Linked DNA regions of Homo sapiens. The protein of the gene in region 3 binds, or shares a complex with, the protein of the main gene of each other region. Each region holds a gene or a part of one and is shown on either strand. Other genes may lie near its edges. The genes, in order: SF3B2, CWC15, ARMC7 and SRRM2.

The links.
Region 1: ARMC7 (region 3) and SF3B2 share a complex: the UniProt entries of both Homo sapiens proteins name them as parts of the minor spliceosome.
Region 2: ARMC7 (region 3) and CWC15 share a complex: the UniProt entries of both Homo sapiens proteins name them as parts of the minor spliceosome.
Region 4: ARMC7 (region 3) and SRRM2 share a complex: the UniProt entries of both Homo sapiens proteins name them as parts of the minor spliceosome.

The regions. Positions count from the first base shown.
Region 1 is NC_000011.10:66,048,104-66,055,366, forward strand, and holds the start of SF3B2 (splicing factor 3B subunit 2), read left to right. Parts: upstream 1-4,260; 5' UTR 4,261-4,281; coding exon 4,282-4,414; intron 4,415-4,569; coding exon 4,570-4,616; intron 4,617-4,923; coding exon 4,924-5,001; intron 5,002-5,040; exon of another isoform or gene 5,041-5,125; intron 5,126-6,972; coding exon 6,973-7,212; intron 7,213-7,263. UniProt on the Homo sapiens protein: Component of the 17S U2 SnRNP complex of the spliceosome, a large ribonucleoprotein complex that removes introns from transcribed pre-mRNAs.
Region 2 is NC_000011.10:94,970,150-94,978,202, forward strand, and holds the start of CWC15 (spliceosome-associated protein CWC15 homolog), read right to left. Parts: upstream 3,408-8,053; 5' UTR 3,349-3,407; exon of another isoform or gene 3,124-3,348; intron 2,045-3,123; 5' UTR 2,037-2,044; coding exon 1,906-2,036; intron 1,339-1,905; coding exon 1,226-1,338; intron 917-1,225; coding exon 828-916; intron 1-827. UniProt on the Homo sapiens protein: Involved in pre-mRNA splicing as component of the spliceosome. Component of the PRP19-CDC5L complex that forms an integral part of the spliceosome and is required for activating pre-mRNA splicing.
Region 3 is NC_000017.11:75,112,832-75,120,238, forward strand, and holds part of ARMC7 (armadillo repeat-containing protein 7), read left to right. Parts: intron 1-1,337; coding exon of another isoform or gene 1,338-1,351; exon of another isoform or gene 1,352-1,897; coding exon of another isoform or gene 1,898-1,968; exon of another isoform or gene 1,969-1,989; intron 1,990-7,407. UniProt on the Homo sapiens protein: As a component of the minor spliceosome, involved in the splicing of U12-type introns in pre-mRNAs.
Region 4 is NC_000016.10:2,762,607-2,770,013, reverse strand, and holds part of SRRM2 (serine/arginine repetitive matrix protein 2), read right to left. Parts: coding exon 1,753-7,407; intron 1,018-1,752; coding exon 730-1,017; intron 1-729. UniProt on the Homo sapiens protein: Required for pre-mRNA splicing as component of the spliceosome. As a component of the minor spliceosome, involved in the splicing of U12-type introns in pre-mRNAs.

The DNA.
Region 1 (7,263 bases), on a different chromosome or scaffold from region 3:
AGTGGCCCTGGCTCCTGCCCTCAGATGCTTCACACGACTCCCCATTGTGCCTGGTGTCTTCTCCATAGAGAGAGTTCTCCCAGCTATCCCAGGCAGGTCAGGACGCCCAGGCTCATCAGAATGTCAGTGCTAATTTTAGTCAGAACAATCTACCTCACGCTGCTGCCCAGTTTTGCAAATTGCTAGCTTTTCTCCAGGGAACCAAAGAAATAGTAGAGCCGACCAAAGCTTTGAAAATGGGCCGGGGTGCCCACCCTCCTAAAGGAGCCCTTTCTCCTCTGTCTCCTCTGAGCTCTAGAGCTGAAACCGATGCACTTAGAGGAAGGGGTGCCCTGGACTGGACCACTTGGACCTGACTGCTGGATGGCCCGGAGACTCCATCCTGTCCTGACTTGAGGGATGGGACAGCCCAGTGTTGAGGGACGCTGACCCAGGGTGCTCCAGAGGAGGGGCGAAGGGCTGAGGGGGTCTGCAAAGTACTGGCCTGGGAGAGCAAATCTTTCCACCTCCCTCTTTTTCCTCCTCCCCCACCCCCCAGCCTGCACCAGGTCTGCCCCTGGCCCCCCAGCCTCCTCTCTCTCTCATCCACCCCCGCATCATCCCTGCCTTGGAATTCCCTCCATCCTCCTGTCTCCATTACTGCCCACCCGCACCATACCTCCCACTCCCTCAATTTCATCCCAGCATCCCCCAGGGATCCTGCCAGTGGGATCTGATCACCATAGGGGATAGGCCAGATTGGCCCGCTCACCCTATCTTCTCCCACTTTCCAGGGGTAGAGCGCCCCCCTCCTCATGCTTTCCAACCACTAGGCCCCCAAGACACTCTCCCGCCCGCCTCTCGGCCCCCATCCCGGTCTGGTCCACTCCCACCCCTCCAACCCCATGCCGGCCACTGCAGTACTCACACCGCACGCCTGGGCTCTGCCTCTGGCCCGGGTTGGGGGCGGCCGCCGCTATCTCTGGACCCTTGTCTCGAAATCCGCACGGGGTCCGAGGGTGCCCGGGGCCCTGCGCGCCGAGTGCCGGTGGCTTGCCTCTCAGCGCCTGGATGGGATCAGGTGGCAGCGTCCGCTAGGCTCGCTCCTCCCGGCTCTGCCCGCCCCCCGCCCCCCGCCCCCCATCGCACACCGGAGGAAGGCGAGGGGCGGGGCCAGGCCACGAGCAAGTAGGGGAGAGGGGAGAGAGGGGAAAGGAAGGGGGACGGGGGAGGGGGGGTGGTTCCCTGGCTTGCCCGCTGGCTGCCGTGAACAGTCTCTGGGTGGCATCTTCAGATGCAGTTGTCTTACTCTGGCAACCTTGCAGAGTTGGACACTAATGTGGCCAGCTCCCTTCTCTCACTCAGGCAGGGAAACTGAGGCCGGGAAGGTGTCTGGATACTCCTGCATTGCTGGGTATTCTGGGGCACCGCCGGTCATACGTGGGCTTCTGGGTGAGCCAGATGCTGGTACACGTGCAGGTACTCACATCCTCTGTCCTCCTCCAGTAGAGAAGCAGTGCTCCAGCCTTGTCTGGTCCCATCTCTGCCCACATGCCCCCTTCCCTTCCAGCGTGTCCCCCATACCCTCTGATGTAGCTTCTGGCTGCTCACCCATTTTTCCTCACTAGGACTCCAGACCCACTCACTCCTGACCAGAGCTATAGTGAGGCTGGGACCCCTGCCTAGGCACCTGCCACCAGGCATCAAAGAACCCAAGTTCAATCCTGGTTTGCTCTTAAATCCCAGAGTCAAGAGGCAACTCCCTAAGCCCTATTGCTTCCAGCTGTAAAATGGGAAGCTGTTCTGAGGTAGCAGAGATAATACACACGAAGGCTCCATGTGAACTTCTTAGTCCTCAGCTCCCATCACCTGGGAGCTGGGCAGCAGCACCTCCCAAAGCCATGCCAGACATCAAGAGCCCTACACTGAGTTCTGTGGCTGGCCTGCACACCTGCTTTCTATTTTGCTCTGGGCCTGGTAAAGCAAGGATCCTGGAGCTGGGTAGCCACCCAAAGGTGGGACTGGAAGGGGCTGGATACGCCCTTCTAGGCCCACATAGGAAATAGTGTGAGGGTCCTTGTTATGGTTGAGGAGGAGGAAATAGGGACTCTCAGAGTCAGAAGGACTGCTGGTGGCCCCAGTTTGGCCTCTTGGGCATGTCACCTTCTCTGCCCATCAATCTTCCGCTGTGTACAATATCGTGGGGGAGGAGGATCTTGAGACCTTGCCTCCTTCCCAGGGCTGTTATAAAATGAGACTCCAGGCCGGGTGCAGTGGCTCACGCCTGTAATCCCAGCACTTTGGGAGGCTGAGGCGGGCGGATCACGAGGTCAGGAGATCGAGACCATCCTGGCTAACGCGGTGAAACCCCGTCTCTACTAAAAAAAATACAAATAAATTAGCTGGGCGTGGTGGCGGGCGCCTGTAGTCGCAGCTACTCGGGAGGCTGAGGCAGGAGAATGGCGTGAACCCAGGAGGCGGAGCTTGCAGTGAGCGCAGATAGAGCCACTGCACTCCAGCCTGGGCAACTGAGACTCTGTCTCAAAAAAAAAAAAAAATAAATAAATAAATAAAAAATAAATAAATAAAATGAGACTCCATCAGCCTTTAGTTTATCCTGCCTCAGAGACCCCGCCCCCTTCCCTAGCACCTACACATGCCTTGGGGCCCTCAGCCTCAGATGACCTGCCCTGGGCTCTCCAGTTACAGGGAGCAGAAGAGCCTTCCTTTGGGCTAGAAAGGTTCTGCCTGAGTGGGCTGACAAGCTGGAGGGAAGGGCGCTGTTTTTCTGTCTTCGTTACTGTCCTTTCCGGGTTTGGCTTCTCCTCTGGGAGTGTGGCTGCAGGAGCCTCCCATAGTGATATTGATGGAAAGGGGAAAGGTCAAGGTTTGGGTAGGAGGAAGAGGACTTCCCACCCAGTGCTAGGATGTGAGCCAACCTTTCTCAACCCAGTCCTTTTCCCTGTCTCTCCCAAACCTCACCTTCCCCCGACCTGGTGCCCCATTCTTTTTTTTTCCCTGTTCCCAGCTTCTTCTCCACTGGGGGCAGTTGGCAAAATGGAGCTGGAGAAAAGATCTGAAGGGGATGTGTAGGGGGAAAATGAGACCATTTCACTTGAGTCTCCCCACTCCCTTTCTCAACACACATAAAAAACACACACAGGCTAGCTGTTGGTGAGAGGGCAGAGCTAGTGGCAGAGGTGGGGAGAGAAACTGAATTGATGGTGTGGGACAGGGAGAGGTGGATGCTAGGCAGGCAAGAATCCCTGCCAGTCTCTGCCTCTGTCTCCAAAGGCCAAGGGGAGTTGGGGTGGGGAGTGGGAGGCAAGGTGGGGCCCCCAGTGCAGGTGCGGCTGAGGGAAAAGGGCCTGAGTTTATTTTTGAGACTAAAAAAGACACAAATGCTTTCACCAGAAACATTGTTCCTTTTTTTCCAGTAATCATTTATTGGGCGCCTCTTGAACGCCAGGCGATGCGAGACTGAAAATGATCAAGTCCCTGCTCACATTTTTGGGATAGAGGTAGGAAGAAAGGGCAAGAAAGACTTAACAAACGGTGGAGATTCGAACGTATTATGGGAGCTCTAAGAAAGGAAAGGAAAGCGGGAGGAGGCTTAGTGGAGAAGACGACATTTGAGCCGGCCTGGAAGGTGGAAAAGGGGGCTTTAGAGTCGCCCTTCCCCCAGGTCGGCAGCTGGAGCTCAGCCCGGGCAGGCCTGCTGCTCTCCCGGCTTGGATCCCCTTTCAGCCCATTCATCCGGGCCTGGGCCGGGGGTGGGCGGGCAGACAATCAGACACTGTTTTATCCCAGGCATCGGCTCCAGCCTCCCGCTTGGCGCCCGCAACGCGGGGCCGCCGGGGAAATGAGTCTCTCGGGACTCCCTGGGAGCGTAAGCGTTCGAGGATCTGACCGGAGGGCCGGGCCGGAAAGCTTGAGAGCCTTCGCTCCCGCAGGTGAGGCGCAGAAAACACTCCCTCGGGGAAGTGCCAGCCCTCCTCGCAGCCCCGCCCTCCGGCCCGCCGCCGGCCTTCGGGGCCGTAGCGGCGCGCAGGGCCCGCAGAGACCGAGACCTGCGCACTACAACTCCCAGGAGGCCTCGCGACCAGACCGCCGAGGGGCCACTAGAGAAAGGTGCGTCTGCGGCGAATCCCGTCGCCCAGCGCACGGCAGCGGGTGTGCCTGAGTGCGCGTCGCCTCCCAACCAGAGAGGACGTGGCATACGGCGCCACCGGAAGTTCCGGCAAGTGGGCCCTGAGGCTGGCCCCAGCTTCCGGGTTGGTCGCGCGCCTTCCTGCGGCTAAGATGGCGACGGAGCATCCCGAGCCTCCCAAAGCAGAATTGCAGCTGCCGCCGCCGCCACCTCCAGGCCACTATGGCGCCTGGGCTGCCCAGGAGCTTCAGGCCAAGTTGGCAGAGATCGGAGCTCCGATCCAGGGTGAGGAACACAGGAAGTCGAGGGGCCTTTACGGGCCTGCGGAGAAGCGGAGCCTGGTTACCCGGGAGACTCGGGTGCGAGGGGCGGAGGCAGGCCGCTGGGGCCTGACCTGGCCGGGCTGGCCTGCCCCATTGATCGTGTACTTTGCCCTGCAGGTAATCGCGAGGAGCTGGTGGAGCGGCTGCAGAGCTACACCCGCCAGGTAGGTGTTGGCGGCGGGACGTCAGGATAGGCCGAGCTTCTCCAGGAGACCTTATATACCCCATCACGGCTCGGTCTTCATTCTTTCTTTATCTCGGCACAGCAAGGCGGAGGCTTGCCCTTTTTAGCTTGTTCTTGCCTTTGCCAGCTTAGTTGTAATTTCTTGTATCCATCTTGGTCCTCTTCAGTGCCCAGCCAGAGCGCTGGCAGACAGGCACTGGGTACGTTTTGTTGAATGAATTGGGAGCGAACGTCGTTTAGTGAAACAGCTAGTTTTGGACTGACCTAGAGTCCTTTCTCTTTTGCAGACTGGCATCGTGCTGAATCGGCCGGTTTTGAGAGGGGAAGATGGGGACAAAGCCGCTCCACCTCCCATGTCGGCACAGGTAGGGAGATTCTTCTGTTTTTTAAGATTCCATCTGCTGATCCTTTTGTAGTTCATGAGCATGATGATTGGGTGTTCACGTGCATGTGTGAGATGTGACACCCTTGCACATTACTCGCCTGACCTGAGTGGGGAAAAAAAAAGATTCCATATGTTCAGGGTAGCCCTTCCTCTCACTTGCAGTTGTTGGGCAGGGAGGTACTGCCATGACAGAATTGTGAGCTCTTCAGTTCTCTCTTTGATGCTGACACTTGCCTCCTTTTCCACTGTCTGCTTCTCCAAAAGCAGCTTGTGGCCGGGTGCAGTGGCGCATGCCTGTAATCCCACCACTTCGGGATGCTTAGATGGGACGATCGCTTGAAGCCAGGAGTTCGAGACCAGCCTGGGCAACATAGTGAGACTCTGTTACTACAAAAAATTTTAAAAATTAGCTGGGCACGGTGGCACGCGCCTATAAAGTCCCTATAAAGAGGCTCAAGGATTGCTGGAGCCCTGGGGTTGGAGGCTGCAGTGAGCTCTGGTTGCGCCACTGTACTCCATGTACTCCATCCTGGGTGACAGAATGAGACTTTGCTTCTTTAAAAAAAAAAGGGGGGAGGTGATGGGGGAGGGGCTGGGAGAGTGTCAGAAAAAATAGCTAATGCATGCCAGGCTTAATACTTAGGCAGTGGGTTGATAGGTGCAGCAAACCACCATAGCACACATTTACCTATGTAACAAACCTGCGCATACTGCACATGTACCCGAAAACTTACAATAAAATAAAATTAAACCAAAAAATAGGAAAAAAAAAAAAGAGGCAGGGCGTGGTGGCTCATGTCTGTAATCCCAGCACTTTGAGAGGCCAAGGCAGGTGGATCGCCTGCGGTCAGGAGTTTGAAACTAGCCTGGCCAACATGGCGAAACTCTCTCTACTAAAAATACAAAAATTAGCTGGGCGTGGTAGCACATGTCTGTAATCCCAGCTACTTGGGAGGCTGAGGCAGGAGAATCACTTGAACCCTGGAGGTGGACGGTGCAGTGAGCCAAGATCAAGCCCCTGCACTCCAGCCTGGGCAATAGAGCGAGACTGTCTCAAAAAAAAAAAAAAGAGGCAGGGCATGGTGGCTCATGCCTGTAATCCCAGCACTTTGGGAGGCTGAGGTGGGCGATCACTTGAGGTCACGAGTTCAAGACCAACCTGGCCAACATGGTGAAACCTTGTCTCTACTAAAAATATAAAAATTAGCCGGGCATGGTGGCAGGTGCCTGTAATCCCAGCTACTTGGGAGGCTGAGGCACGAGAATTGCTTGAACCTGGAAAGCGGAGGTTGCAGTGAGCTGAGATTGCGCCATTGCACTCCAGCCTGGGTGACAGAGCGAGACTCTTGTCTCAAAAAAAAAAAAAAAATACAGCTTGAATACAAGGAAGACTGACTTGTCCTTACCCAGCTGGAAGCAATCACCCTTTTCTTTGCCTGCCCCAGGCACAGTTCCCATGTTCTTTTGTGTGACATCGAGGGCTCCCTGATTTGATTTCACACCCCTTGCGTTTAGTAGTCATTGGGGTTTGCATTGCCCAGATACAGTGGTTCCTGTTTATGTAAGTCCTCTCAATTTCCATGTTCCTTCTGATCCAGGATTTGCCTCATTTTCTCTAAAGCAGTGGCTCTGACCTGGCATCTACTGATCTCTGTGTGTAGGATGAGGAGTCCCTAGATGGCCTCAGAGGCGTCTTTGAGTCTCCTAGAATTGTATGCAGAATCTATATTCAGGATATCTTTTTGGAGAGAGTGGATAGCTTCCTTTGGTTGGTGCCAGAAGTTAACATTCTCATATCTTTATAGAGCTGTGGAGCATTCTCTCTTATGGAGTGGTAACTATGTATCATTTGACTTAGAATTCCAGCTCCTGACTCAAAGTAGATCCCCCAGATATTTGCAGAATGAGTAGATAAATGCTTCCTAGTTTTATGATCATATTTTCTCCACAGCTCCCTGGAATTCCCATGCCACCACCACCTTTGGGACTCCCCCCTCTGCAGCCTCCTCCGCCACCCCCACCACCTCCACCAGGCCTTGGCCTTGGCTTTCCTATGGCCCACCCACCAAATTTGGGGCCCCCGCCTCCTCTCCGTGTGGGTGAGCCAGTGGCACTGTCAGAGGAGGAGCGGCTGAAGTTGGCTCAGCAGCAGGCGGCATTGCTGATGCAGCAGGAGGAGCGTGCCAAGCAGGTAGGGCAGGTGGCAGCCCTGGCCTTGGACTCATTAGGTCCCTGAAGGGGC
Region 2 (8,053 bases), on a different chromosome or scaffold from region 3:
ACACAGTACATATGTACAACGTATCACCCTAAGAAAGTCAAAACAATTTTATGTAGCTCAAAACAACTTTAAGCTAGCAGCAAAGATACTCAAAAGTGCAAAAAAGTGTGCTAAATTCTCAGAAGAAAATAATTTCAAATGAATAATCATTAAATTTCAGTTGAAATTAGGTTTCCTGTTTTAACTATTATGAGTAACTCCATCAATTAACTCTAGAATTAACTGCTGATATGTATACATAGTTAGATATTACTCATTGGATGCCACTCAGGTTTTTCACTGTCCTGTATGTAGAAAACTGCAAATTGATTATAGGCTCTAGGGTCCCACAGAATTTTAACATTAACTGATGTGCTAATCCTTAAAAACCTTCTGCTTAGATTACTTCCCTCCCTAAGCACAGAGGGAACCATTAAGTGTATTGCACTTATAGAAGGGGACATATCTAATATGGAAAGGCCTCCAGGTACAACTCTAGAGGGCACTGTTTATAGGAAGCCCAGTATGAAGAGTGCCCTGGAGAGGTGTGTAACACAGCAGTAGTGCAGTAGTTTAGTACAGGACATTATTTTGGGGGAAAGCATATCCTTTTATAGATTCCTTCCATATTTGGTTCTCTAGAGATCAAACTTGTTCTTAAAGTCCCACAAAATAATACTTTTGATTTTAAAATCAACTATAAAGTTTAGCACTGAGGTCAGGGCTATATTTGAATAACAGTAACTAAACATAAATATATGTCACTTCTTAAAGCAAAGACATAACAAGTATTTTAGAATAGCATGGTAAATCAATTATTAGAGATGAAAGGAGGAAACAAAACATACATCTGTTAGAGGGTCATCTGCATCAAGGTTGGCGGCAGGAATCTGGTCTAACCGTGGCTTTTTTGACACTGAAGAGGAGGTTGTATGTTCTGGGGGGAAACAAAAATCATTTAACTTAGTAAAACAAATACTTCATTTCTTAAAATGTTTTAGGGACCTGTGAGCACAAGGAGCCCACATTAAAAGCATTATCCACAGTGAACTCACATCCACAGTGCCTGGGCAAATAAGCCTTTGGTAAATATTTGTTGTTATTATCTCTAATGACCTAAGAAAGTAGTACAGCTCACATCAATCTGTAAAAGTAAACAAATGGTTAACATTTTCCAATTGCTACATAAAGAAAAACTATCAACAACATAATTTTATGAGACAAATGTCTTGGATAGTGTTGGTACCTCGGGTTGGACGATCCCTATTTTTCTCTCTTGCAGCAGCTCTCTCTCTTTCTTCCAACTCTCTCCTGAAGTCACGGTTACGAACCTCTTCAGGGGCATCCTGAGTAGTCTGTCTAAAGTAGAAACAAACCAGGGCAAAAATGTTACTTAAACACACACACACACACACACAGAGACTGTAGTAATGGAAGACAATTCAGGAATGAGACTTTGTCCTTCAAGCAGAAAAAAGGGAAGTAGACAAGATCATAATTTAATCTGAAGGTTACTAACAGCCACTCTTGTGATGTTCCCAATATTTCAAGAAGTCCAAATTCAATCACATATTTTCCTATAATAAGGCTTTACAGTGATTAAAATGTCTTTAATTTTTATTAGGATTATATCAACTCAGAACTTAACAGTAATACTTTTAATATACTGACTGGTGCTCATAGTGCATACTCTGAGGCATTATTATTTCTATTATTTATTGTTCTATCTACATATGAAAATTCCTGGTTAGTAGGAATTTCACATTTTAAAATCACAGCAGAATTTTAGTGTTAAACATCCTATTGCATTCTATTCCTATGAAAATAGATAAGTGACATAACTCAAACATACTACTATATCATGACCATGCCATTTAACAGATCTGGTCTTGTTTTGTGAACAATAAAAAAAGAAAGTCTTACTACCTGTATTTTATCTTTGTATGAGAGGGTAGGTCTCTGCTTGAATACTGCTTTGAAAGTTGGCTCAAATCACCTTCTCCTTTTCCCCTTCCACCTCTGGCAGGTTCAAAGGTTGGCCTGGCTGCTGTTGTCATCTTTTATGCTTTGAAGAAAAATATAATCAAGTTATTTCCAACATTACAAACACTCATTTTATAGAGTATTAATCAATATCCATACTGGTAAAATAAGTTCTAAAACTCATTCCCCAAAACCTGCTTAATCTTCTTAAACAAAAGTTTTCAAGAAAACAAATTATGAGGCTTAGGCTGTACAAGGAATATGGCTTCTCAGGCTTGCCTTAGTACAAAAAATTCTGTCATGAAGATCTGAGTTTGCATCCCTATTCTCCTTCTGACTATATGGGCTTGAGCAAGTCACCTGGCTTAACTTTGTCATCTGTGGAATGGAGATATTCCTCATAGATTATAAGAATTATGACACTTGACATGTCAAAACCCTAGTAAAATACAGTACTGCCATGACTGAGTTTTAAAAATTTCCAACTCAACCTTACTCTACCAGACTCTGTAAGGTTTGCATTTTATCTAAACTTCACACAATAGCAAATAGGCTAGTAGAAACAAAAGCTAAAAACAAACAAAAAATATCACTGACAAAGTTACTAAATGTCCCAGAGAAAAGTGTGTTAAACTTCAATGACAGTTACACAGAAAAAAATTCTTAAACAACCGTTTGTTGAGCCAATTTTCTCCTACAACAGGCATCATACTATAAATTAGATCGTTTGTGGGTTATAATTTAAGGCCTGTTCAAAAAAAACAGGAACCTCACCCCCAGAGGATTCTGATGCCAAAAATCAGGGACTCATTCCTCAAGTTACTTTCTGCTTGGAGCAGTCACAAGAATACTGTGCAGCAGATGCAGTCACTAAAACCCTGTTAGTGTCGGAAAAGCAAGTGTGTGGGGAGGGTGGGCGAATTGGGAGGATTTTTTGGGGGGGGGGCGATGCTAATTCTCTCAACTTTCAAAAAGGGTAGAGACATGTATACAAAGAAGAAAACAGGGTTATCTGGCGCTGGGGGCGCCGCCCCTTCCCACACACCCACGGAATTATCACTCCGGCCTCCCGTGAGCTAGTCTTTGGCTATAACCAGAAACTCGCTGCCTCTTCACCCGTGCCCAGCACTGCAGGGGTGCGAAGGGTAGTGAAGGGAGGACCTGGGGTTCGCTTTACGCAGTAGGCGAGCTGCCTGTACGCTGCGATCTCCTCGGCGGGCCCAAGAGCTCCAGACGCGCCTGACAGGCACTCGGTTCCGCCCCTAGCCCGCTGCTCCAGGGCCTCCACCGCCCGCGCTCTGCACTCTGCCGCCGACTCCGACCCCAACTGCCCTTTCCCGTCCCATCGCGATAAGAAAGATAATCTCCTATCCTCTTGCCGCTCACACTGGCCGAGGTCCGATGCAGCAGGCTCCGAAGATCATACAGACGCCATTACCACTCTTGGCTCCCAGAAACCTCTGCGCCCAGAGCTAGCGCCTACGACCCGGAAGCAAAATCCAAGCGCTTCGGGGGCGGAAGCAACGACCAATCCGCAGTGGCCGAAGTGGAAGTCGGCGTAACGGCACTAAGGGGCGGGGCCGAAGCGGCCCAGGGGGCGGGCGTTTGAAATCAGTGCCTTAGAGTAGACCCTAAACCTCATTTTATACCTTCAAGAACCAATTACTTAATGTCTCTTCCGTCTTTTCCGTCCCCGACCCCCTCCCAGACTCCTTCATTCCGGTACTGCGTGGACGGAAAGCCCCGGGTAGCCGACACCACGTCCCCGGCTAGCGGGAGAGAGCGTGGAAAAGGATTACACCAAACTGTTTAAATCCAACGACTCCTGCTTCCATCCTTTCTCCTGAGCTAGAACCAACAAACCTAGAGAGTTGGGCTTCGGAAAAACTAGTGTTTTCATTTAATTGGATATGAAGAAAGAACAAATATGTACGGGGCAACCACGATCTTTACAAAGGTACCATTCCTGCAAAAATATTAACACTTCAAAGCAAAGGTTGTATTCGTAATGTTTGCTAAAATTTCTTATTTAAAAAACGTTAGTTTTAGTGGGAGGGGAGATGTCAGTATTTACGAGAGCGTTTACAATGGTGGGCCCAACTACCAGGAGCACAAGATGTAATTATTAAGATGGCTACTTAAGTGTTAAGTTTTAATAAGACAACGAAAAGTAGAAAACCCGAAAACCAAAAACCTACCAGTCGTCTCTCCTCCCTTCCATAAAAACAAATTCTGAGAATAGAGATCTTGGTTGTTTAGCTCATCTTGGTATCTCATCACATAGACCTTGACGTATAGTAGCTGCTCAATTAATATTTGTTAAACAAATGAAAATTCAACTTCCCCAACTTAGTTTAAAATGTAAGGAACTCACAAAATTGAATATTTAAATGCTTTCTTACCCCTAAATTCTTTGCAACTTTTTAATGAAGAAAGAAAAGCAGAAAAAGCCCTTTCAGTCATAGAGTTCAAGATGAAAATCCTGATTTTTCTTACCGAAGGTATCCCTCCTCCAGTCTTAACAAGTCTCACTAAAAGACGCGATCATCATGCTAGTTACTCAAACCAAAATCCCGGAGTGCCTACTTAAATTCCTTTTCATTCACTCTTCACATACGGTTCATTTACAGGTCTTAACAATTCTACTTTTAAAACTCACCCGCAATTTTATTCTACTGCCACTACCCTTGCCTTTGCCAACACCATCTCCTACCTGGATTGTAATTGCTTCCTATTATATCTTCCTGCGTCATCTTTTATCCTACAGTCAGTGTTGCATATAGCCAAGAGAGTGATCTTTTAAAATTAATAAAATGGTGTTACTATCCTGTGTACAATTTCACTGCACTTAGAATAAAAATCACATTTCTTAATGTGACCTGAGACCCCACGGAGTCTGGTTCCTGCCTACCTTCCAGACTTCACTTCCAATCAGTCACTCGCTTACGCACTAAGCTCTAGACACAGCCAAGTGGGCATTTCTGTTTTATAAAACAGGGCAAGATTCCTTCTATTTTAGGGCCTTTGCACTAGCTTTTCTCTGTTGCCTGTGCCCCAAAGTAACTGTATCACCATCCTTCATGTCTCAGGTATCACAGTGAGGTTTTCCTACCCCCACCCCTCCAACACTTGTGTTTGTACACCATCACATCACCCTGTTTCATTTTTCATACCACTAAACATTACCAGAGTCTATTCTATTCATTTTTTATTTCCATGTCTCTCAGGAGACAGCATGCGAAGGTCATTAAGAGAAAAGGATCTTCAGCCTGCCCATTTTTGTTCTAAATTCCAGTTCTGCCCTTTCCTAGCTCTATAACCTTAGGCAAGTCATTTTCCCTTTCTGTGCTTTCAGTTTCCTCACGTGTAAAATGGGCGTAATTCTAGTCCCTAACTTGTAATACTACTCTAAGGATTAAGTGAATTAATACTTGTAAAGTGCTTAGAACTGTCTCAGCAAATAGTACTTGCTAAATAAATGTTAGCTATTATTATTATTATTAATATTATTTTTATTATTATTGTCTATCTTCCTATATTAGAACATAAGTTCCAGGAAAGCAGGAACCTTGTCTCTCTTGTTCACTGGGTGTATCCTCTGCATATAGAACAGTGCCTGGCACATAATAGGTGCTGAGTAAGTATTTGTTGAATGAATGAATGAATGAATGATGCACTATGAAGTAGAGGAATGACGTAACAATGGCAAGATGGTAACACAATTATAGGAGATACCCACAGTTTTTATGTTCCAACTGTCCTCATTAGCCTGGAGTGAATCACTTCATTGATTTAACTCCCAGCCCACTAACCTAATCTTTTGGTTGCCAGTGGTGATAAATAGCCACCCTATAATTTCATTAACACCAATATACAATATAGTCAATCCACAAAATTAAAAGCTTTTGACTTAAATGAAAGTGCTAATAAGAAAATGAAACTAAAGCTTTTGACTTAAATGGTTTGAAAGTATTAAGAAAAAGAAACTTAAGTTTACTAAAATCTTGAAATTCATCTGATCAGTTAACCTAGCTGGCAAAAATCATATAACCTCCCAAGAATTCTTATGTTAAACCTGTTACCACAAAATCTAGTTTGGCCCTTAATTCTGCCTGCCAGTCCTCTTATGCTCTCCTAATTGTTTATTTTCCCCCTCTACAATAATATAATTTCCCACATTCCCCTTTCTTCAAGTCTACATGCCTCTTTCACCTCCTTTTCCCTCTGCATTCTCTTTCCTGGCAGTAGATCTTCTCAGTTCTCTGAGAAAACAGAAGCTCTTAAACAAGGACTTCTCATCTCCTTTTTTCCGCAGATCTATCGAGCTGCCTTTGGCTATTCCTGTATCCTCAGATTCTCATTATTACTGGAGATGAGGTGACCCACACTCTCCCTTGTGCTCTGGGTCCTAATTCCTCCAGGTTTCTTAGTGGCTGGCATTTTGCTATATATTTTCTCTTTCTTATGATCTATGAGGCCATCCCTTTCAGATCATTTTTATCAGCTTTTGGACATGGTATAGTATATCTTAACCTTAAAAAAGGCTCTTTCATTTTAGTATGCCAAAGGTAGCATTTAATTAAATGTGAAAGGGATGTAGTTTGGCCCTTGATTGCAAAACTTTCTATTTTTATGGCAGGAGTAGCATAGGAATTCCAGTTTAAAGCTTAAACAAAATCAACACCTAAAAGGGAAAATAGAAACCATAAAAACCTAAGAAGAAAATTTAAGAAACTATTTATAGAACCTAGAATTTGGAAAGACCTTTCAATCAAAGCAGAACACCTTAAGAGCTTTAAAAGAAATACTTTTAAAAATTCATTTATCCAACAATTAATTTTATAGCTGTAGATGCCAAAAACAAGTCAATAAATTCTAGATTCGCAAATAAATTTTGTAATGCCTATAACATATAAAGGATTACTGCTACTGCTAGTGATACACATAATATAAAAATCACAAATTACCCAATTAAAAAATGGACAAAAGATATAAGCAGGCCATTCAGAAAAAGCAATTTCAAATAGACAAGTCAATAAACATGAAAGACACTCAACCTTCTAATGAGGAAAATGAAAGTAAACTAAAAATGGATTATCACATTACAGCATCCGATTGGCAACAATTAAAAAAATTAATAACATAGTTGGATGGGATTGAGAGAAAAGGGGATCCAGTCAGACAGCGGGGGGCATTGGTCCCCCATTACCCTCACAGTAAAAGCCAAGGTGTTCACAATGGTTTCCAAAGTTTTCTATGGTCTACCCTTTCCCCTACCTCTTTGACCTCATCACTTGCTCATGCTTTTCATGGCTACCTCCTTCATATTGTTGCTTGGACACGCACACAGCTGCTCCTGCTTTAGGGCCCTCACACTAGCTATTTTCTCTGCCAAGGCTATTCTTTCCTGTCTTACTCAAGTCTTTGTTCAAATGGAGTCCAACGAACCTTGGGCATCTCTACTTAAAATTGCAACTGTTCTCCCTCTCTGTCCCCTAACATTCTGTACTCCGTATCTCCCTTCCCCTCTTTCTTCTTTTTATCTTTTAAAATTATATTATATATAATTACATGGCATTTATCATCTTCCATGACCCTATATAATTTAGTTATGTTACATTTATTGTCTCTTTCTCTACTTCTCCCATGTAGAATATAAGTTCTAAAAGGGCAGAGATCTTTGTTTTGCTCAGTAATATAGGTCAAGCATTAAAACAATGCCTGGCACCAATAGCTACCCAATAAACAGTTTCCATATGAGTGAATAAAAGAAAGAATGAATGGACGAATGAAAGAATGAATTAGTTTTAAGAGGAAAAAATTGTGTTCTGTTGTAAAAAGTTATTGCCTTAATCTATTTTATATTTTAAAGGAAAAAAGTAACTTACATTGTATTAGTCTGAAATCCCGATTTCAAATGAAGATATGATAAGACCCAGAAATATGACTTTCTTTCGGGAGAGAATCTCTAAATGAAAAAAATCATATGAGATCAGGCTTTATATGTACCATCAAAATCCTAATTAAATCAGCCCTAATCCAATCACAACTCTAATCCAACTCTCTCCATCTCTTCCAGTTGAATCACTGT
Region 3 (7,407 bases):
TTGTAACCCTAAACAGACCCTCATTTCATAACACTGATTCTCGAAGGCCCCAACCAGGAATGCAAATGTTCCCCCTTCCGGTTTGTCTCATTGCCTCTTTGTGGTTTCTTTATCCCCTTTATTTCCTATAATCCAGAAATTGGGTTGAATGTCTTGATAGGATCAAATAACACATTTTTTATTTTATTTTATTTTATTTTATTTTATTTTTTGAGATGGAGTCTTGCTCTGTCGCCCAGGCTGGAATGCGGTGGTGCAATCTCAGCTCACTGCAACCTCTGCCTCCTGGGTTCAGACAGTTCTCCTGCTTCAGCCTCCCGGGTATGGGATTATAGGCGCCCGCCACCACGCCCGGCTAATTTTTGTGTTTTTAGTAGAGACGGGGTTTCACCGTGTTGGCCAGGCTGGTCTCAAACTCCTGACCTCAGGTGATCCGCCCGCCTCAGCCTCCCAAAGTGCTGGGGTTACAGTCGTGAGCCACCACACCTGGCCCAACTAACACATTTTTAAAAATACTTTTTATTTATTTATTTTTTTTTTTGAGATGGAGTCTTGCTCTGTCGCCCAGGCTGGAGTGCAGTGGCGCGATCTCGGCTCACTGCAAGCTCCGCCTCCCGGGTTCACGCCATTCTCCTGCCTCAGCCTCCCAAGTAGCTGGGATTACAGGCGCCCCCCCACCAGGCCCGGCTAATTTTTTGTACTTTTAGTAGAGACGGGGTTTCACCGTGTTAGCCAGGATGGGCTCAATCTCCTGACCTCGTGATCTGCCCGCCTCGGCCTCCCAAAGTGCTGGGATTACAGGCGTGAGCCACCGCGCCCGGCAAAAATACATTATGATAAGTGTGATTCAAATTTTTCAAAGACCATCCAGGTCTCCTCTAAAGAGGAGAGGAGATTCCTGGGGCCAGACTACAAATGAGGGTCTTCTCTCCATGAGGGGGCTCCAGCACATGTGTGTGCGGATTCACACCCCCACAGACAGCTGCCCCTTGGCCACTCCCTGGGTTTGGAAGTGCACACACCAACAGTGGCATTCACTCCTGGGAGTCAGGATCCAAGAGAGAGGCCCATGCAGCCGTGGGAGCAGGTTTAGGGCCTGGAGCTCCAGGTGCAGGGGAAGGACGGCTGTGGGCTTTGGGTGAGCTCCCTGGACTTACTGCCCCACAGAGGACCAGAGTGGGGCCTGCTAAAGCCAAGCCAGGGCAGGAGCCCCAGTTGCCCAGGTCCCCGAGTGATGCCAGCTCCTCTAGAAGATTATTATGCCAAACAAATATTCTAAAAAGTTGGTCTCTAAAACGTCCTCCGTCCCGTCCCTTTTCGTGCCTCTGCCCCCACAGCTGCTGCAGTCTGAACGGTGACGGTGGCCCCTGCAGAAGCATGTGGCTAAATCTCCACCAGGGGGCGATAGAGCTCCTCCAAATCAAGCTGCTGCCCCTGGAGAAAAATTGGCGGAAGTCACAGAGCAGTCCCCACCAAAAGTGTTTACCAAGTGGAGTCTTTCCTGCTGGCGTTTCCTCAGGGTCAGGAAGCAACTTTCCCAGGACAGGGGCACCCTGAGGTCCGGGTCCACTGAGCTATGGGGGCGGCGTGGGCCTGGGCTGGGTTCTTGCCATCCTGGGCAGCTTCCCGGCGTGGGTGACTGAGCCCGGGTCCTGGAGTCCGCGGTCCCAGCGTCTCCACTTCTCAGCTGATTCCTAGAAGCTGAGTCCCGTCCCTTCTCCGAGCGTGGTTTCCTCTCCCGCCTTGCCTGCGTCGCAAGCAGTTGTGGGAGCAGAAGTGTGTCTGTGCATCTGTGTCTCTGTGCAGGTATTTTAGAATTGTTAGGATCATTATCACCAGCTTTACTTTTCCCAACCATTTTTTTCCTCCTTTTTTTCTCTTCCTTCTTCTGCCACAGCAAGACCCCCCCGCCCCAAGCACAGTAGCTTTCTCAGCGTCGAATCCCTCCGTGGGACCATGTTGCAATGAAATTTCAACATGCAAATGAAATTTCTCGAAATTTCTCTTGTGTTTATTATGCATGACTGAGAAGGAGAGCCCCCGCGTATTTTCTTACTGCCGTCGTTTCCCTTTCTCTTAGTGTCTCTGCTTGGGGATCCCCGACAGGCACTTATTCTGCTGTTTCTGGAGAAGGCTCTGTGCTGCGCTTTGGAGCTTTGAGTCTTTTATCCGATGTGGCAGCCCTGAGATTGTGATCTCCCTGAGCCAGAGCCAGCCTTACTTCTGTCTGCATGGTTTGAGTGCTTAGGCCTTTTGGCCTAGGGAGGAGGAAAGAAGGGGAAGAAAAGGCAGGAGATCTTCACTTAATAGGTGTGGAGTCCTGGCCATGACTTGGTGCAACACCCCTGAGCAGGGTTGGTTCTGGAAGGACTGGCACAGTGGAGAGCTGAGTCAGATTGCCCATGGCTGTGGCTCGCAGAACCAAAACCAAGCTGGGTATGGTGGCTCACACCTGTAATCCCATTTGGGAGGCCGAGGGGGGTGGATCACTTGAGGTCAGGAGTTCGAGACCAGCCTGGCCAACATGGCAAAACCCCGTCTCTACTAAAAATACAAAAATTAGTTGGGTGTGGTGGCGCACACCTGTAGTCCCAGCTACTCGGAGGCTGAGGCAGAAGAGTTGCTTGAACCAGGAGACAGAGGTTGCAGTGAGCCAAGATCACGCCACTGCACTCCAGCCTGGGTGACAGAGCAAGACTCTGTCTCCATAAAAAAAAAAAGGAACCAAAACCATTGTCTGCTTGGTTGAGCAGGGTGGTTCATACCTGTAATCCCAGCATTCTGGGAGGCTGAAGCAAGAGGATTGCTTGAGCCCCCAGGAGGTCAAGAGCAGCCTGGGCAACATAGCAAAACCCTGTCCCTACAAAAACAAACAAAACAAGTATCTGCTTGTTGGCAGGCAGCACAGTGAGTTGGATGAGAGCTGGGCCCTGGGGTCAGGCAGGCATCTGGGTGTGGGCTCTCTCTCCTCCAATCATCTGTCAGATGGGGACAGTGCCAGTAGCTGCTTCACATCAGTTGAGAGAATTAAATGAAACACCACAGTGCTCTTTTAGGGTTAGTGTCTGCAGCCATAGATAGGATTCCCTTGGTTGCCATCCAAAGACAAATACCCAAAACCCTTTGAGGGTGAGCTGTCGCCCCTTGTCCCAGAGAGGTGAGGTGCGGGATGGGATAACGTCCTATCAAGGGAATCACTCATCTGCTCCAGGAATTCTTACCTTCTGGAAAAACATCACGGAATGACAGGAACACCGATCCTCAGCCTCCCAGAGGGTGCCCAGGCAATGTCAGGTGGGGAGAGCCTGGCTGCAGGCCCGGTGCTGTTGTGCCCCCATCACGGATGGCATTAGCTCACACTTGGGGAGCACCCACTGCATGCCAGGCGCTTGCATCTTGTGCATTGGACATAGTACTAAAGTAGATGTGCTTACACCGCCTTCTTTCCAATCAGGACTCTGAGGCTTAGAGAGGTTCTGTGGGCTGGCCAAAGGTTTAAAGAGTACCAGACCTAGGCCGGGCATGGTGGCTGACGCTTGTAATCCCAGCACTTTGGGAGGCCGAAGTGGGCAGATCACCGGAGGTCGGGAGTTCGAGACCAGCCTGACCAACATGGAGAAACCCCATCTCTACTAAAAATACAATTAGCTGGGTGCGGTGGCACGCGCCTGTAATCCCAGCTACTCAGGAGGCTGAGGCAGGAGAATCGCTTGAACCGAGGAGGTGGAGGTTGAGGTGAGCCAAGATCACGCCATTGCACTCCAGCCTGGGCAACAAGAGTGAAACTCCGTCTCAAAATAAATAAAGAGTACCAGACCTGAGACTTAAACCCAGAGCAGTCAGAGTCTACAAGCTAGTCCCTTGGCCCTTTTCCTGCCCTTAGAGGAGTTCCAATTCCTAGGATTGTGGAGCGAAAGCGAGAAAGGAGTTTACTCCAAATTGCTCATTTTATCAATAAGGAAGCTGCGGTGCAGACAGCTGCCCCTCGTCTGGCTGTCGCAGGCCAGGATGAGAATGCAGGCTTCCTTCCGTCTGTCCCTGCAGCCACCACACTCACAGGTACCCTTCCATGCTGGCTTTGCTGTGGCAGCTCTGAGTGAGGTCTGCTCTTTGGCCCAGCACTTCTGCCTCCTCTCTGAGGGCTGGAAGCTGGATGCTATCCAAACAAATGGATTCGCTCACCCTGCACACTAAGGCCAATTACTGACAAAAATCGCAGTGAGAAAGTGAGGCTTTGTTTTTGTTTTTGGTTTTGGTTTTTTTGAGACAGATTCTCACTCCGTTGCCCAGGTTGGAGTGCAATGGTGCAATCTCGTCTCACTGCAACCTCCGCCTACCTGGTTCAAGCAATTCTCCTGCCTCAGCCTCCTGAGTAGCTGGGATTACAAGCACCCGCCACCACACCCAGCTAATTTTTGTATGTTTAGTAGAGACGGGGTTTCGACATGTTGGCCAGGCTGATCTCGAACTCCTCACCTCAGGTGATCCGCCCGCCTCGGCCTCCCAAAGTGCTGGGATTACAGGCGTGAGCCACTGTGCCCAGCCAAAAGTGAGGCCTTTATTGTGGGGCGACAAGCAAGAAGAATCCGGCAGCTCATGCTTAAGACCCAAATTCCCAGATGGCTTATGGTTAAGGGTGTTCAAAGGCAGGAGGCAGAGGTTACAGACAAAGTTTTAAATCAACACCAGGAGGCTATATATTGGTTTGGCCTAAGAAGGCAGGATGTCTCCAAGGGATGGGGCACAGATCATAGGTGGCTTCAAAGATTTTCTGATTTGTGAGTGGTTAAGGAGGTGAAGCTTTGTCTACAAATTTGGCATCAGCAAAAAAGAATGTTAGCTATAACCTGTGGGCATGTCCTCCAGGCCCCTCAGGGAGTCTAAAGAGTGGTCAGAGTGTAGTTTTCAGTTCCCCTTATCTGAGGTCTCAGTGCCAGGGGAATTGTTTGTTGAGGGTCCAGATTTCTGAAAAGCAACTCAAGGACAGATATTAAGATGTTATCTTTAGGCCGGGTGTGGTGGCTCACACCTGTAATCCCAGCACTTTGGGAGGCTGAGGCGGGTGGATCACTTGAGCTCAGGAGTTCAAGACCAGCCTGGCCAACATGGTGAAACCCCGTCTCTACTAAAAATACAAAATCTAGCTGGGTGTGGTGGCAGGAGCCTGTAATCCCAGCTACTCTGGAAGCTGAGGCAGGAGAATCGCTTGAACCCAGGAGGCAGGCAGAGGTTACAGTGAGCCAAGATCGTGCCACTGCACTCCAGCATGGGCGACAAAGCAAGACTGTCTCAAAAAAAAAAAAAAAACAAAGTTATCTTTAGTTTCTATGGGGAAACCAGACATCCCCTGATTCTGACTTCCTTGGCTATTGTTTTAAGCTAACTATTACCTTCTTGCTTATCGAGTTGCTCACTTGCTTCTCAGGGCTAGCTAGGTGCCTGGAATTTCATGAAGGGACTCAAGATTTTCCTTTATTTCCATGCTTGGGGGCCTGCAGGCCCCTAGAGAAGCCCCTGCTCTCTCTCCATGTCAGCCAGGGCTTCAGTCTGGCCTCAAGTGTTCCCATCAGCGGTGGCAGTGGAACTACAGTGGCAGCAACCACTTGCCAACAGGGGCCTGGCCTCACTCACCGTCGTCTCTGTGTGGCGGTCTCTTTCTCCTGTGGCTTCCTCTCAGTTGCCCGCCGTCGGCACCGCCACAGCCATGAGGAAGGATCCGGCTACAGCGACCGCGGAGAACACGCACGGGTTTTCAAGTCTCTGGCCTCTTTTGTGGCCTCTTGTGGATCTGCCCATTTAGAGCAATTGTAGAACTAGTTTATTGACCCTTTCTGTGCTTCTGGCTGCCTTTTCTGCCCAGGGTCCAGGGCTCCTGTTTGGGTGCTGTTGGGATAAAAGCTGCCTCTCCTGGATGCCCGCCCAGTGCACACCATGTGCTCGCCACACGCCCACCTGAACCAGCCTGTCCACAAGGCCTCTGAATCGGTCATGAACGGCAAGGCCGATGGTTCTAACCCCTTTGTACATATCGGGAACCCCCACCACCAAGTGAGGGCAAGTCCACTGCCTGGGGCTCCCGCTGTTAGTGATAACTGGAGCCAGGACTTCGCCCCTGTCATCCAGGATCCAAATTCTGTGCCCTGGGAACCCAGCTGGCACCAGGCTCAGACTCTAGTCCCTTGTTCTGGCCTCAAACTCCTGGGCTCAAGTGATCCTCCGACCCCAGCCTCCCAAAGTGCTAGGATTACAGGCATGAGCCACTGCACCCAGCCCCAGTGGCAGTTCCTCTATGACACTGGTACACTGGACTGTACACTGGTACACTGGTACACTGGACTGGTACACTGGACTATTCACAGGGGATTATTTGTTCTTGGGTTTTCCTTCAGTGTCTTGAAAATGGCTCCTTCAATTTCAAGTCTGAAGGACAGACAGTACATAGAGTAAGCTACCCTTTGTGTGAGAAGGCAGGGTGGAGATGAACACACCTCTGTGTATGCACTCACGCTGGCAAGACACAAAAGTGTAATAAGGAAATGGGTTAGTACGAGGCAGGGAACAAGGTAGAAGGGACCAGAATGGTGGTGAGACTTCTGAAAATACCCTGTGATACAGTTTTTTCTTTTTTTTTTTTTGAGACGGAGTTTCGCTCTGTCGCCCAGGCTGGAGTGCAGTGGCGCGATCTCGACTCACTGCAAGCTCCGCCTCCCGGGTTCACGCCATTCTCCTGCCTCAGCCTTCCCAGCAGCTGGGACTACAGGCACCCGCTACCACGCCCAGCTAATTTTTTTTGTATTTTTTTTTTTTTTTAGTAGAGACAGGGTTTCACCGTGTTAGCCAGGATGGTCTCGATTTCCTGACCTTGTGATCCGCCTGCCTCGGCCCTCTCAAAGTGCTAGGATTACAGGCGTGAGCCACCACGCCCAGCCTGCTGTGAAGACTTTGACCCTGGGCTGCTTCAGCTCAGCATGGGCGAGTCCCCAGATGTAGCTGTATTTTGAGCTGCCCTTGCCGAGGGCCTGCCCAGCCACCAGGTGCCAGGTGCCAGCTAAGCACTTGTCAGAAGCATCACCTCGTTTTGTTTTGTTTTTGAGATGGAGTCTCGCCCTGTTGACCAGGCTGGAGTGCAGTGGCATGATCTGGGCTCATTGCAACCTCCGCCTCCCAAGTTCAAGCCATTCTCCTGCCTCAGCCTCCCAAGTAGCTGGGACTACAGGTGAGTGCCACCATGCCCAGCTAATTTTTGTATTTTTAGTAGAGATGGAGTTTTGCCATGTTGGCCAGGGTGGTCTTGAACTCCTGACCTCAGGTGATCCACCCTCGGCCTCCCAAAGTGCTGGGATTACAGGCATGAGCCCCCACGCCCGGCCAGCATCACCTCATTTAATCCCTGGGACCATCCTTCAA
Region 4 (7,407 bases), on a different chromosome or scaffold from region 3:
GGGAAGGGGCAGGGCAGTCTTCTCGAAGGTGCTGTTTTGAGCGGAGTCTTGCAGAACGAGGAGTTCACCAGGCGGACAAGGAAATTCCAGGCAGAAGGAACAGCATGTCCAAAGGCATGGGCTCTCCTTAGACTGCAAGGCGCTGGGTGTGGCTGGAGCACAGGGCATGTGTGGGGGCGGGCAGGAGGAGAACACAGGGCGGGCAAGGCCCGTTGGTGAAGAGCCTCACACGCCACTCCCGCAGAGGTGGGGCTTTGTCCTGCAGGCCACAGGGCGTCCCGAAGGATTTGTGGAGTGGAGGGAAGTAGCCAGATGTGCGTTTTAGAAAGGTCCCTCTGGCTACATGTGGAAGAGAATGGCGTGGAGACGGGGAGACAGGGAGGAGGCTGTGGACAGAGTCGGGAGAAGATGATGGTGGCCAGACCAGAGCCCTGGCAGTAGCAACAGGGAGACAAAGCTAGAACCCTGGGAACAGGCTATGTGTTGAGGGAGGGAGAGGAAGAAACCAAGGACCCCCTGGTCCTGGCCTGAGCGCCGCTGTGGATGGCGCAGCCCTTCGCCAGAACAGGGTGCAACGAGCATGGGGAGAGGAGAGCAAGTGCCTCCTCCCCCACAACCAGATGCCCAAGGCCACGTGAGACACCCAGCGGGGAGCTCACACCCCAGGGCCCCTTCTCTGGACAAGTCACTCCCCCACCCACCTTTCAACTCAGGCAAGACAGCACTCACCTCCGCTCGCCAGGGGGTGGCTTCTTGGGGCTTGCAGGTTTGGGCAAGGCCTGAGGGCCAGGCTTAGCAGGGGAAGGGGAGGAAGACGACGAGGAGGAGGAAGATGAGGAGGAAGAAGAAGAAGAGGAAGAGGAGGAGGAAGAAGAGGAGGAGGAGGAGGAGGAGGAAGATGAAGAGGAGGAGCTGGAACTGGAACTGCTAGAGCGCCTCTTCCGTTTGGCTGGGGTTGGCTCCGGAGGACGTCCCTCTCGAACAGCCTCCTTTGGGGCTGGGGTGGGGCTGGGGACCCTGTGGGAGGAGAGGAGTGTCACAAGGAGACAAGCTGCCCCAGCCCCAACCCTACCTTCCTTGGCCTGGAGGAACGGCAGTGGGGGGAGGGGTGCCTGAGAAAGGCGCTGGGAGCTCTCCGAGCCACGTGAGCCAGCAATTCTCTGGAGAGCAGTGGTGCGAGCTGACCCAACCTCTGCTAACAGAAGCAACAGGCTGGGGCCCGCAGCATAAGGGATCAAGGTTAAACCTCAAGAATGTCCCTGATGGAGGAATAAGGCCTCTGGGCTCAGGTGTGGAAGCTGAAGCTGGGTAGTCTCCTTCCTCGGAGAGCCGCAGCTTGGGGAGGCCCCTGTGAGTGCAGGTTGGCTGGGGAAGGGGCCGTCCTGCCTGGAGGCAGGGAGAGGGATGGGATGACCTCTGAAGATCCTTCCAGCCCAGGGAGTTCCTCTTGAGGTCTAACTGCCATCCCTCCTGCTGTAAAATTAAGTCCATTTCCTCTAGTTCTGTCCTCTGTAGAGACGGAAAACTTATCATTATCCTCTAGAGAATGAACCTTCGGAGACTTTTATCTGTCCCATTCCTCCTCCCTCCGCCCCCTGCCCCAGCATTCTCTTCTACCCCCAGCTTGAGGGTCAAGGTCCCCATACCTCCTCCAAGAGCCAAGCACCTGTGACATGGTTTCTCCCTCCCCACTCCCCAACCCATCCCCAATACCTCCCCCACTGAAGATTTCTAAAAGTCAAGCTCCCTCACCTCTTCAGTGCCACCTCAGGTTGCACAGGAAGGCTAGAGCCCTCTGAGTCACTAGAACTGGAGCCAGAGGAGGAGGAGGACGACGACGACGATGATGAAGAAGAGGAGGAGCTAGAGGACGACGACGACGAGGAGGAACTCCGCCGCTCCTTTGCTGGCTGCAGGGCGGCTAATGCAGAAGGCTGCTGGGCCCCAGTAGAGGCAGGTGGCTCCCCCACATCAGAGTGGGGCACCCCAGGGGCAGGGACAGAGAGCATGCCATTGTGATCACCAGCAGAGGACGTGGTCGTTGCCACTGCCCCAGAGGAAAGGGACTGAGACCCTGCTACAGGGGTGGTCTGGGCAATCAAACAACGGGATTGGTCTGAAAAAGCAGAAGGCACAGGAGACCTCGGCTGATCCTGTGCTGGAGGGAGAAGAGACTGTGAAGGAGCCTGGCCCATTCTAGAGGAAGGGGAGGGAGCCCGTTCAGAGGTCATCCTAGATTGGCTTGGGGCAGACGGTGGTGTTCTGGACCTAGCTCGGTCAAGGAGCGGTGGTGAGGTTCTGCCACTGACACGCTCGTAGGCAGAAAGGGGCACCCTGGGGCTGGTGAGGTTTGCACCAGACAATGCTGGAGCCATCCTAGCACTGGTGAGGCTCGCGGGGGCCAAGGCTGCGGCGGTTCTGGAGCCGGCAATATTCACAGGAGCTGTGGCATGTGCAGACCGAGGACCCACCAGGTTTGCAGAGGCTGGAGCCTGTGGTGTTCTGGAGCTGGAGGGATAGTTTGCAGCAGTTGGTGGTGTGCCAGAGCCTGTGAGACTCAGAGCTGCCAAGGCAGCTGGGGTTCTGGCCCCTGCTAGGTTCACAGCTGGGGCTGTGGGAGTGCGAGGGTCAGCCAGGTTCACAGCCGAAGGTGCCACCGCTGTTCTGGGGCTGGCCAAGTTCATGGCCGCTGCTGCAGCTGGCGTTCGAGAGTCAGCCAGGTTCACTGCTGTTGGAATGGCAGGTGTCCTGGCGCTGGCTAGGTTCATGGCTGCCGCAGAGGCTGCAGGAATCCTGCTGGCAAGGTTGGCTGCTGGTGCGGTTCTGAGACTCATGAGAGGCACCGGGGCTGGAACCTGGGACATTCTTGCAGCAAGGCCAGCAGCAGACATGGACGGAGGAGGCCGAGCGGTGCCAAGACTGATAGCTGTCAGGGCAAGTGCAATCCTGGACTGAGCATGATTTTCTGGCACAGATGTTCTCTGGTGGTCAGGTATTCGGGGACCTGGACCATCCATCATGGAGCCGCCGGCTTGCTGCAGGACAGACATGGGTGTTCTAGAGCTGCCAAGGGGTTCAAGCATTCCAGGTGATCTGCAGCGATCAAGAGGTGTTGGGGACATGCTAGGACGACTGAAGCAGCTCATTCTGGAACTGTTGAGTGCTACTGGAGGTGTCCGTGAACCAGAATGATTTCTTGTTGCTGGAGGAGTAGCAGATCGTGAACGATCAGAACTACTTCCAGATGCAGAACGCCTGCGGATGGCTGGAGGAGATCTTGTTAAGGACCGTTTACCCCGAGCTGTTCGTGGAGTACGGGATCTGGAGCGGCGGCGGATAGCAAGTGGTGAGCGACTTCGAGAACGTTTGCGTGGTAACAGTGGCGTTCGAGATCTAGAGCGGCGCCGAATAGCTGGAGGTGTCCGGGACCTAGAGCGGCGGCGTGTCACTGGTGAGGTTCGAGAGCGGGACCTTCTTCGAGTTACTGGAGATGTGCGAGATCGAGATCTCCTTCGGGTGACCGGAGATGTTCTGGATCTTGATCTTCTGCGAGTGATAGGCGAAGTTCTGCTTCGAGATCGCCTCCTGGTTACTGGTGGAGTCCTGGATCTGGACCTTCTGCGAGTCACTGGTGGAGTTCTAGAACGGGAGCGGCGGCGTGTTGTTGGCGTTCTAGACCTTGAACGACGGCGGGTTACTGGTGGCGTTCTGGATCTGGATCGCCTTCTGCTCACTGGGGATGCTCTTGACCGGGATCTTCGTCGAGTCACTGAAGTCCTGGACCTTGACCGTCTCCGGCTGACTGGTGAAGTTCGAGATCTGGACCTACGTCGGCTTATCAGGGGGGTTCTGGACCTGGATCGCCGGTGAGTGGCTGGAGAGGCTCGAGATCTAGAGCGTTTCCACGGGGCTGGTGATGTGCGTGAGCGAGAACGCTTCCGACTGGTTGGGGGTGTCCGAGAGCGGCCTCTTCGGCGTCGAGAGGAGGTCCGGGAACTTTCCTGCCGGGCAGGTGACCTTGAGTGATAACCAGAGCCTCCCCTCCGCCGCCGAGTAACCCGCGACCTTGACCGGCTCCGCTGTCTTCGCCGAGAGGTTGACTGAGAAGATCCAGACCTATCTCGACGTCGGGTTGTTCTTGTTTTCTCTCTCCTTGAGCGGGAACGGGACCTCTGGAGTCCACGAGGCTTTGGCGAAGGAGAGCGGCCTCTCCTTGAGGTTGTCTTAGTGCGTGGAGATGAAGCTGAGCGCCGTCGGCGTGAAGACCTCGATTTTTCGGCTGGCTCCGGGGAAGACACTGAGGGACTTCTCCGGTGCCTTGGGGGAGTTCTAGAGCGAGTTTCTGGTGAGGATGAGGCAGAGCGGCTTCTACGGGACAGTCTGGCCTTCCTTGTTAGCTCCGGAGATGATCGAGAGCTGCGACGTCGAGGTGGTGTACGAGACTTGGTCTTGGGCTCTGGTGATGACCTGGAACCTCTGCGAGCAGTTCTGGATTTGGGCGGATGTTCAGGAGAGGACTCGGTACTGCTGCTTCCTTCAGGAGAAGGGCCTCTGCCTTTGCTTGATGAACCTGATCTGCTTCGTCTGGGAAGGGCCCGAGGGGCTGGAGCTTTAGGTTCAGGAGAGGAATCAGAACCACTCTGTGCCCTGGGTGCTGCTCTTGGCTTATCTTTCACTTCAGGGGAGGAACCAGACCTACTGCGCCGAGGGGATAGTCGAGATTTGCTGTCAACCTCTGGAGATGATCCAGACCGACTCCTCTGCCGAAGTGGGGTTCTTGTCTTGGCTTTAGAATCTGGAGAAGAGTCTGACTCACTTCTTTCCTGAGGGGATGCACTGGGTTTCACATCAAGTTCTTGAGAGGATCCCGAACGACTTCTCTGCCCCAGGGGAGTCCGAGCCACAGTTTTCTGATCAACTGATGATTCTGACCCGCTTCTTTCTCTCTGGGGGGTAAGACACTTGTTGTTGAGCTCTGGGGATGATGGAGAACGACTCCTCGGCCTAGGAGTCTGAGGCAAAGCTTTCGGTTCTGGGGAAGAATCACATTCGCTTCTCCCTCTAGATGGCGTTCTAGGTATATCTTTCATTCCAGGAGAGGACCCAGACAGGCTGTGCCTCGAGGGAGTCCCAGACCCATCTCTAAGTCCTGGAGAAGACCCAGACCTGCTTCTCCTTGATGGAGTTCTGGGTAAACCATCTTTCATTTCAGGAGAAGATGCAGAACTACTTCTTTCTCTCGAGGGTGTTCTGGGTACAGCATCAAGCACAGGTGAAGAGATGCTCTGATTTGAAGACATCCCTGCCTTTTCCACTGCATCTGGGGATAACTCAGAACTGCTGTGTCCAGAGGATCTTGTCGATTGTTCTTTCATGTCTAGAGATGGATCTGTTTCCAGCTGATTAAGAAACGGTCCATTCAAATCTTCTTTAACCTCAGAAGAAAATCCAGTATTCATTTCTGTACCAAGTGGGCCTGAGTTTCTAAATTCTAAAGGTGATCCAAAGCTGTTCTCCCTGAGTGGGGAGTTAGACAGTTCTTTATGTTCTGGAGAAAAATGTGGCCCACCCCAAGATGAGGCCATTGAAGGGACTTCTACTGCTTCCAAAGAAGCCTGTGACTGGCTCTGATCAAGAGTCAAAGACACAGCAGGCCTTTCTTCTACTTCAGGAGATGATTCAAAGTTACTTGTGGACATTTCTTTAAGTTCTGAAGACAAATGAGACAGGATTTGGCCTGCGGGTTCTTCAGACTTCTCTACCACCTCCATTAACTCTTCATCTTGGCTTGACGTAGGCAATGCACTATTTTGCTCTTTTGTTTCTGGAGATGACCCAGCACCACTTCTTTCCCTTGGCGGGGTTCTAAGTGTGTCTTTGAATACCAGTGAAGACTCAGGCCTATCCTGTACTGGAAAGGGACTAAATTTGTCTTTCTGTCTAGGAGGTGATGCAGTAGCATCCTCCTGAGGGGGTAAGGCCATTTTCTCTTTTGATTCAGCAGTCTCCAATCTACTCTGCCCCAAGAGAGAATTCGAGTCCACTGTAGGATATGAAGAAGAGTCAGACTGGAACCTGCTCTGCTCAGGAGACATTCCAGATTTCAACATAGGACTCGCTGAGAACTCACCTCTATCTTGTCTTATTGGAGATCTGGATGCCAGCTCAGTGACTGGAGATGAAGACCTGGACCGACCTCCCTTAGGTGATGTTTGAGATTTGCTCTGCAGAGATGGTGATTCTGAATGACTCTGTCTCACTTCTGGACTTGAAGTATCAGATCTGTGGTCTGGTGAAGTTTGAGATTGTCCTTTCAGTTGCAGAGATGAGACACCAAAATAGCTCTCGCCTGGTGGTGTGCTAGATTTTACTCCTGCACAGAGAGAGAGGGATCCAGGGCAACTTTGAACTAGTGAGTCTTTAGACTTCTCTTGGGGACATGGTGACTTTGATCCAGAAAGACTTGGCCCCGGTGGAGTTTGGGCCTTTACTTTGGGGTATGGTGAAATAGACCCTGAGTGACTTTGTCTTGGCGGTGTTTCAGGTTTCACTTTGGTATCTGGTGAGGAGGACCCAGAATGACTGTATCTTGGCAACAATCTGGATTCCACATTGGAGCAGGGAGATACTGATCTGCTTCGCCGTGGAGTTGTTCTCGACGTCACCCTACTAGGACTTGGAGAAGAGGAGCCAGAATGGCTTCTTTGTCTTGGTGATATTATTGCCTTCACTTTGGGTTGTGGAGATGATGACCTAGATGGGCTCTGTCTGGGAGGTGTGCTAGATTTCACTCTAGGAGGAGAGGACCCTGAGCAGCTATGTCTAGAAGGGGTCCTAGATTTCAACTCAGGGTCAGGTGATGATTCAAAACAGCTCCGTCTCTGTGGCGTTACAGATTGCTCATTGGCCTGGGGACTTGTTATGGACCCTTGCCTCGGTGGTGTTCCAGATTTCACTTTAGGATGAGGAGATGAACTGGAATGACTTTGTCTTGATGGTGTCTTAGATTTCTGTTTAGGTGGCGGAGAAGAACTGGAGCGACTGCGTCTGGGTGGCGTTCTAGATTTAGCTTTAGGTTGGGAGGATCCAGAGCGACTGCGCCTGGGTGGTGTCTGTGACTTTTGTTTAGGGCATGGGGAAGACCCTGAAAGGCTGCGCCTCAAAGACAAGCGAGATTTTGCTTTGGACCGTGGTGAAGAGAGAGACCTGCTCCGCCTTGAAGAAATGCGAGATTTCTTCATTTCTGGGCTTGAATTGGACCTGCTTCTTCTTTGAGATGTTCTGGATTTGTTTTTCCGCTCTGAAGATGAGCCAGATCTGCCTCTTCTTTGAGGTGTTCTAGAGTGAGATCTTCCACGTCTAACTAAGCTTCTACTGCGGGATCTTCCTCGTCTTGGTGTCCTAGAC